Homo sapiens: one gene and its partner. The protein of the gene in region 1 purifies or fractionates together with the protein of each later gene. This does not show direct contact. Each region holds a gene or a part of one and is shown in the gene's direction. Other genes may lie near its edges. The genes, in order: NCAN and CMTR1.

What was found.
Region 2: the proteins of NCAN (region 1) and CMTR1 fractionate together in Homo sapiens (co-fractionation; one large-scale study listed by BioGRID). This does not show direct contact.

Annotation. Positions count from the first base shown.
Region 1 is NC_000019.10:19,210,555-19,214,805, forward strand, and holds the start of NCAN (neurocan core protein precursor), read left to right. Parts: upstream 1-1,403; 5' UTR 1,404-1,510; intron 1,511-4,251. UniProt on the Homo sapiens protein: May modulate neuronal adhesion and neurite growth during development by binding to neural cell adhesion molecules (NG-CAM and N-CAM). Chondroitin sulfate proteoglycan; binds to hyaluronic acid.
Region 2 is NC_000006.12:37,456,995-37,460,804, forward strand, and holds part of CMTR1 (cap-specific mRNA (nucleoside-2'-O-)-methyltransferase 1), read left to right. Parts: intron 1-1,617; coding exon 1,618-1,816; intron 1,817-2,571; coding exon 2,572-2,690; intron 2,691-3,810. UniProt on the Homo sapiens protein: S-adenosyl-L-methionine-dependent methyltransferase that mediates mRNA cap1 2'-O-ribose methylation to the 5'-cap structure of mRNAs.

The DNA of each region.
Region 1 (4,251 bases):
ATAGGAAGGAAGGCAGGGGCAAAGCCTGCCCTCTCTGGGCACATTTCCCTCCTCATGGCTTTTTTTTTTTTTTTTTTTTTTTTGAGACGGAGTCTCACTCTGTCACTCAGGCTGGAGTGCAATGGCATGGTCTCAGCTCACTGCAACCTCTGCCTCCTGGGTTCAAGCGATTCTCCTGCCTCAGCCTCCTGAGCAGCTGGGATTACAGGTGTCTGCCAACACGCCTGGCTAATTTTTGTATTTTTAATAGGGAAAGGGTTTCACCATGTTGGCCAGGCTGGTCTTAAACTCCTGACCTCAGGTGATCCACCCGCCTTGGCCTCCCAAAGTGCTGGGATTACAGGTGTGAGCCACCGAACCCAGCCCTCATTACCATATTTTTAATGGTGGTCAAATACAGATAACATAAAACTCACCATCTTAAAATGTGTAATTCAAGGCCATGCGCGGTGGCTCATGCCTGTAATCCCAGCATTTTGGGATGCTGAGGCGGGCGGATCATTTGAGGCCAGGAGATCGAGACCAGCCTAGCTGACATGGTGAAACCACATCTCTACTAAAAATACAAAAATTAACTGGGTGTGGTGGCAGGTGCCTGTAATCCCAGCTATTCAGGAGGCTGAGGCAGGAGAATCGCTTGAACCTGGGAGGTGGAGGTTGCAGTGAGCCAACATCGTGCCACTGTACTCCAGCCTGGATGACGGAGCAAGACTCCGTCTGAAAAAAAAAAAAAAAGATTGGGGTCTCATGTCTCATGGCAGGGACATGCCTATGCCTCTGCATAAAGCAAAATTATTCATGTGTCAACAGCAGTACCCAGTCCATAGAGTGTGCTACATAAATGCTGATCAGACAAAGGTGAATGAATGAATGATACAATCTGGCTGTAGTTGCTGGAAACAGCTCGGGGGTGTCACACACCTGGACTCCCACCCTGCGTGCCTCTTACCAGCTGTGTGAACAAGGAGTCTCCCCGTCTCGTCCGTGCCTCAGTTTCCTCTCTGTAAATGGGGTAAACCAGTAATTGTAGCCAAAACTGCTTTGAACGTGAGTCCTGGAGAATCAGGCAGGGCGAGGTTCGAATCCCAGCTCTGCCTCTGTGCGTGACCTTGGGAAGCGACTTTGCCTCCTTGGGGCTCAGTTTCCCCACCTGTAAAATGGGACGGCCTCATCCTGGGGCATAATGGGGACGTTTAACGCGGTTCCTGGGGCAAAGAGAATGGGAGGAGAATCGATGCCATCTTCTCCTGGGTGCGGTGAGTGTCCAAAAAATGGGCGGGGTGGGGATTTTAGGCAGGGGAGCCCCCTCCCTCGCGCAGCCAGAGGCCTCGGGCTGGCGGGGGCGCATGCGCAGAGAGCCCTCGCGGCCCCTTTATAAGCACTGAGGCGGCGCTGGGGCCAGCGGAGCGCAGGGCGCAGGGGCTGGACCCGGCGCGGAGCTGGCTGAGTCGGAGCGCAGCGTCCTTTGTGCCCGGCGGCCGCCCCGGGATGCGTCCGAGCTAGGAGCCAGGTGGGGGATCCGTGAGGGGGCCGTGTTGCGGGAGAAGACTTCGGGATTAGAGACAGAGCTCAGGATTAGGGAGAGGACCTGAGACCAGGGAGAAGTCCCCAGAATGGGGAGGGGGCTGAAGCGGGGGAGGGGAGCCCTAGGTTGAGGAGGGAGCGCGAACTGGGAGGGGGCTTGGGAATGCTAGGTGAACAGACATTTGGGGAGGAAGGTTGTCCGCGGAATCCGGAGACTACCCCCCGGTGGGGAGGGGGCCGGGCTGGGGGTGGGTCTCAGGGTTGAGGAGGGAGCAATGGGAAACAGGGCTAGGGGAGGGGCCCCCCGAGTTTGGAGGGAAGAAGAGGACACCCAGATGCCGAATGGGGGACTCTGGAACAGGGCACCCCCGTATCTCAGCCGAGACACCCCAGGATTTTAAGTAGGGATTCCCAATTTGCGGTTGAATGGAGGATTCCGGGCCGGACTGCAGTGGGGAGGGGGCCCCCAGATCACCCTGTGCCCAATGGAAGGGTATCTGCGCTGAGAGCGAACGGCCATGGGGAAGGGGCTCCCTGCCATCTCCCTGTCCTTTTGGGTCAGGTCCGGTCACCACGTTCTGACTCAGGGAGGAGGTCCTGGGGGTCCCCATCCCAACGTGGTTCCCCGTTATTCCCTTAGACCTTGGGTTGAGGTGTTGTCCCTTATCCCAGGGAACACACTGGGTGTCCCAGGTGAATGTTGGGTGGGGGTCCCCTAGACCCCCCAGCTATGGATCCCCAGGACCTGTGAGGGATACCAGCTCAGAGGGGGGGCTGTCCCCCAGCACCTTCACAGCCTCCCACGTCCTTACAGCATGACACAGACCCCTACCCCCACCCCCTTTAGTTCCACCTGTCCATATGGACACATGTGGAAGCGCTGGCTTGGTTTGGGGGCACAGGGGCTGGGAAGTAAGGGGCTGGGAAGTAAGGGCCCTGTCTGGGCAGGAGAGACCCCCATCCCTACGCGTGGGGCTTTGTTCCTCTCAGGCAGCATCAATGAGAAACAGCCAGGCCAGGGAGAGGGTTGGCTCTGGGCCCCAGCGGGGGACGTGGGGGCAGGGCAGGCAGGAAGGGGTGGGTGCACTGTGGGACCCCAGAACCCAGCCGTCGCAATAGCTGATGGACATTCTGAAATCAAGTTCCCCCTCAAGGATATGGGGGTTTTGTGTGTGTGTCCACCCCAGACAGGCAGGGAGGGGGAGTATGCCCAGGGGTTCTAGGGTCCCCTGTGAGTCTGATGTGACTGTGGTTGTGTCTTTGTCAGAAAACTTGTGCCGAGGGCCACATCACCATGTGGCAAAATGATGGGTGTCCATCGGTCACCAAGGCCACAATTATCCATCTCGGTTTGTGCCAGGGGCTGGCATCGCCGTGTGAGTGAGGAGCTATGTCTGATGCTGTTCCGTTCATCAAGGGGTTTATGTGGGGGGGGGGGGGCCCGAGACTGTGGGTGTGTGTCTTTGTGCAGAAGACACGCCGCCTGTCTTGTAAGTGCCCATATTGTCTCTCTTTGTTAATGTCACTGTGAATCTGTGTGAGTGTGTGTTTCCCCAGGGTCTGTGTCTGGGGTGCGTGGCTGTGTGTGTCCCGCTTGTGTATCTGGAGGGGCCAAGGGTTCTTTCCATGCGGTTGGCAGTGTGCACCCTTGGCACGGGGGTGTGGGACGTGGTCTGTGTTCAGAGTTGGGGCGCTAACAGGGAAAGCTTGAGCAGGGGTTGAAATCCCCAAGGGGAAGCCCGGGATGATGACTGAGCCCATCTCCCTTTCTCCTCCACGGAGTTCCACATTCACACCCATGCACACTAATACACCCTGACTCTCAGGTCAGAAACACACACATGTGCGCACAGCCCCCTGCTGAGGGTCACTCAGACTCACACACATCCACAGATCACACTAGGTCCCATGTGCTCCACCCGGTGCACGGAGCTGCTGCAGGCTCACACACACAACATGCACCCACCACATGGCACAACCGCCTTCACACCCTTGCCAGGACACAACACCCCGGACACACACCCAGTCACAAACACTCACAAATGCCCATTGGCAAACTCACCTTCACTCAGTGCTAACGGAGACTTGAGGTGGGGGTGAAGTGAAGGAGGGGACACACACACACTTACACACACACACTCACACACACTCTCTCACACACACACATTCACATGGATCCGAGCTGCCCCTCCTCCAGCACCCCGCAGGCCCCTGCTTGCATATGCATGAGGCTTGTACATTATTCATGAGGGCACGGGCCCCAGACAGCTGTGTAAATGCTCATCTCTGGCCGCCCTGGGGAGGAGGTATTTTAAGAGAAGGGTGTGGGTGTGTGAGGGTGCGAGTGGAAGGGAGTGGGAGGGTGTGTGTGGGGGGTGTGCACCTGAAACTGTGTCTGTCACCATGTTGGGCAACCTCAGTATATTTTTAGCGTATACATGAGGCTTTGTGTCTAAAGAGCTGTTTTTAAATTTAACATTTCTAGGACTTTGCAAGTCTTAGGTCATTTCATCCTCACAGTAGCTGCAGGTGGTACTTGCTGGATAATCTCCATTTTACAGGTGGGGAAACTGAGGCACAGAGAGATTGAAGCAGCTTGTCCCGGATTAGAAGCAGAGCTATCTGGATGTAGTCTGACCTGTTAACGGGGTGTGTGTGTGTGTGTGTGTGTGTGTGTGTGTGTGTGAGAGAGAGAGAGAAAGAGAATTCTCTGGCCTTGTCCTCTCG
Region 2 (3,810 bases), on another chromosome or scaffold:
AGGATTGCTTCAGTCCAGGAGTTTGAGGCCAGCCTGGGCAATACACCAAGATCCTGTCTCTAAAAAAAAAAAAAAATTTGTTGAGCGTGGTGGTGTGTGTCAGGGGTCCCAGCTACTCAGGAGGTTGAAGAAAGAGGATTGCCTGAGCTCAGGAGTTCAAGGTTTCAGTAAGCTATTATTGTACCACTGTACTCCAGCATGGGCTGAGTGAGACCTCGTTGCCAAAAAAAAAAAAAACAAAAAAACCTGGGGAGAGAGAGCGAAAGCTACTCAAGGGGCCACAAATGTAATTATGCCAAAATTCAAATGATGATTAGTCAGTCCTGAGTTGGCTGGGTGCTCCGAGCGTTGCCTGGAAGCTGCTGTTGCTGCACAACAGTATTTCCTTCCCTCTCTGTCTTGTCAGCTTCTGACTGTGCCCTGCCCCAACCCCACACCCAGCGCTGGGCAGGAGAAGAAAAAAGGGAGTGCAAAAAGGAGAGAGACCAAATGCAGTGTGGTGTCTTGGATTGGATCCCAAACAGAAAAAGAACATTAGTGAAAATCTAAATGAAGTCTAGAGTTTAGTTAATAGTAAGGTACAAATGTTGGTTTCTTAGTTTTGCCAAACATACCATGGTGTAAGGTGTTAACAAAATTGGAAACTGGGTGAGGGGTACTATCTTGGCAACTTTTCTGTAAATCAAAAATTATTCCAAAATAAAAAGTTATTTGGGATTTTTTAAAAGGTGGTTGGGAGAGCCAAGGAGGAAGGGGAGAAAGGAAGACAGAGGCTATGATGGGAAAAGGAAGGTTCCTGTGGCTGGGAGAGGGTGTTAGAGCCCCCCAGCCTTTGGTTGGACAGGAAGACCTGAGTCTAGTGGCTAGGCCAACTGGACCCTGATTTAGCTTTGTTGCAGACTGGCTGTGAACAGATTACTTTGTGACTTTGTATCTTGGTGCCTCTTTTTCCCTATCTGTATATGTGGGGCATATTCTGTTCAGTAGGACTCTTGAAAGGCAGGATATGGTGAGGAAAACACTCTGAGAGATAAAAAATGTAGTCAGATACCCATAAATGTTTTTTGTTGTTTTTGTTGAGACAGGGTCTCGGTCTGTCGCCCAGGCTCAAGTGCAGTGGCGCGATCTCAGCTCACTGCAACCTCTGCCTCCCGGGTTCAAGCAATTCTCATGCCTCAGCCTCCCGAGTAGCTGGGTTTACAGGTGTGCGCCACCACACCTGGCTAATTTTTTGTATTTTTAGTAGAGACAGGGTTTTACCACGTTGGCCAGGCTGGTCTCAAACCCCTGACCTCAGGCTATCTGCCTCTCTGGCCTCCCAAAGTGCTGGGATTACAGGCTTGAGCCACCGCGCCTGGCTCCATGAAGATGTTTTTATGAGGAGTCTGAGCTAGGCCTGGTGATGTGATAGGCATTGTGGGTATTTTGAGGGTGGGTGAGGCAACACTAAAGGGTGTTAATCACCAGAAGATACATTTCCTGGGTGCTGTAGCTCTGGTGGGAGCTCTGGATTGTACTTGCCGAAAGGCTTATTTTACTCTCCCTGCATTCTCCTTCCTGTTGCCCATTGAGCTGTCTTGTTTTCCTTCCTCTCCTGTCCTCCACTTGCCTTTGCAGAAGCCACTGGTGAAGGACCGGGAAGCTGAGCTTCTGTACTTTGCTGATGTCTGCGCAGGCCCAGGTGGCTTCTCAGAGTATGTGCTGTGGAGGAAGAAGTGGCATGCAAAGGGCTTTGGAATGACTTTGAAGGGCCCTAATGACTTCAAGCTGGAGGACTTCTACTCTGCTTCCAGTGAACTCTTCGAACCCTACTATGGTAGGGACATTGAGGAGGGTACTAGGAGGTATGAGGGACAGCCCCTCTATGGGGACTTCAGGTCAGAAGCAGTTGTTATCCACATGCCATATTTTCTTTCCTAGGTCTCTTACCCTGGGCTTCACAGTTCATGTCAGAATCTTGGTTCCCTCTGGACTATCCCTTTTTACCCTGGGCCTGCAGAATACAGGTCAAACACTCCCTCAGCAGATTCTCATCAAGGCCCTATTAATTCCTCCTTTCAGGAACACTCTGCTTTTGTGGTGGCAGGAGATAATGAAACTGCCTGATCTCTGGCTGAGAACTGGCAGGGTTTTTAACAAATATAAACCCAATGCCCATCTCTCGCCCTCTGTGCCAGGTGCAGAATGCACTGGGTTGCAGACAGCTCAGCAACCCACAGCAGTCCCTCTGTTCTATGTTGATTGTAATTTGACAGCAAATCCTAAGTCCTTTCTGAACAGTCCTTATTACAAAATTGATGCCTAAATGTAGGTGCCTTAAACACAACTTGGGTCTTAAAGAGAAAGTTCCACGAGTTGATGACTTTTGACTGGTCAACTCCTTTGGGACTGTGTTTCATTATAGCAGAGTACTGTTGTTCCTCCTGGTCCATCACTGTAAGGGAGCCTTGCAGGATGGGCCCTAGTTCTTGAGACACCTGATGCCCGTCTTCACTGACCCAGAGCACTCGTGTCCCAGCTCCTGACATGTATAGGGCAGATGAACTCACTATGACTCTTGTATTCTGACAGGTGAGGGTGGGATTGATGGAGATGGAGATATCACCCGCCCAGAGAACATCTCTGCTTTTCGGAATTTTGTCCTGGATAACACAGATCGCAAGGGTGTCCATTTTCTGATGGCTGATGGGGTAGGTTACCTTTTTTCCATAGACTGATGCATTAAGGATTTGTTATTTTAGAGGTTTGAGAATTGTTTGTTTTATCTGGTTCTTTAGCTGCTCCCAAAGATGGTATTTCACAGTTCAGATTGTAGAGAATGCATTTTTATTCTTTTTATACATTTTTTAAATGATAATTGTGTAGAGACTGATGTTGTGGATACCTTTGCCTGGAGCAGGGTGATCTTGGTGTTGCTCCTGGTGGAGGCTGTCTATACATGGTCACCTGTAAGCCTCTCATAGGCTGACAGATGGCCACCTAACCAAAGACGGCAGCACAGAGGAATCCACAGGAGGCTCTTGTCAGGGCTGGGTTAAAGTGAATGTTCAAGAGGCCTTGTCTATGGGCAGCTGCTTGAGGCACAGAGGGAAGCCCATTGCAGCTTTGTTCAGCAGAAGCTCTCACCCAGTAATCTGACAATGCAGGCATTCCTTTCTGGAGTGAGCCACCACTTACTCTAGAGGAAGGACAGACAATTTGGCAGCTGCTCCAGGATCATATAGCTAGAGTTGAGAAAAGCCTCTGGGACTCTTTGGGTGGCCTCTTAAGCAGTAGCTGTGTGGCTAGTGAAGGAAGGTGGGCAGGATGTCAGCATGATATCCAAAGATGCCTAGGCTCACCAAAGCACTGTGCACAGCAGGGAACAACAGATGACAGGCTTGGGGCTGGCTGTGAGGGAGGGGCTGCTCTGGCTGAGCAGATGTGGGAGTCTGATAGCGCTAATGAGGCAGCTGTTGCTGTGCGGCAGCTATAGAGTTGGAAGCTCAAGGGCTTTCTGCTTCAGCACTTCAGCAGTGTAAAGGGGTGACCTGGGCTTTTTTTTTTTTTAATTGACCCCATAATCAGGCATGCATTTTGAGAAGCATCTTTAAGTCTGGAAGACACTCCTAAACATTTCTTATCCTGAGTCCTTTAGCTATCACTTCTGTAGAACTGAGTCAGGGACACCTGGGGCGTGTTTAATAGAGGGCAGCGTCCTTTTTTCTTTATTTTATTGTAAAAAACACAAATTTGATCATCTTAATCATTTTTAAGTGTTAACAGTAGTGTTAAGTCTATTCACACTGTTGTGCAACAGATTTTCAGAAG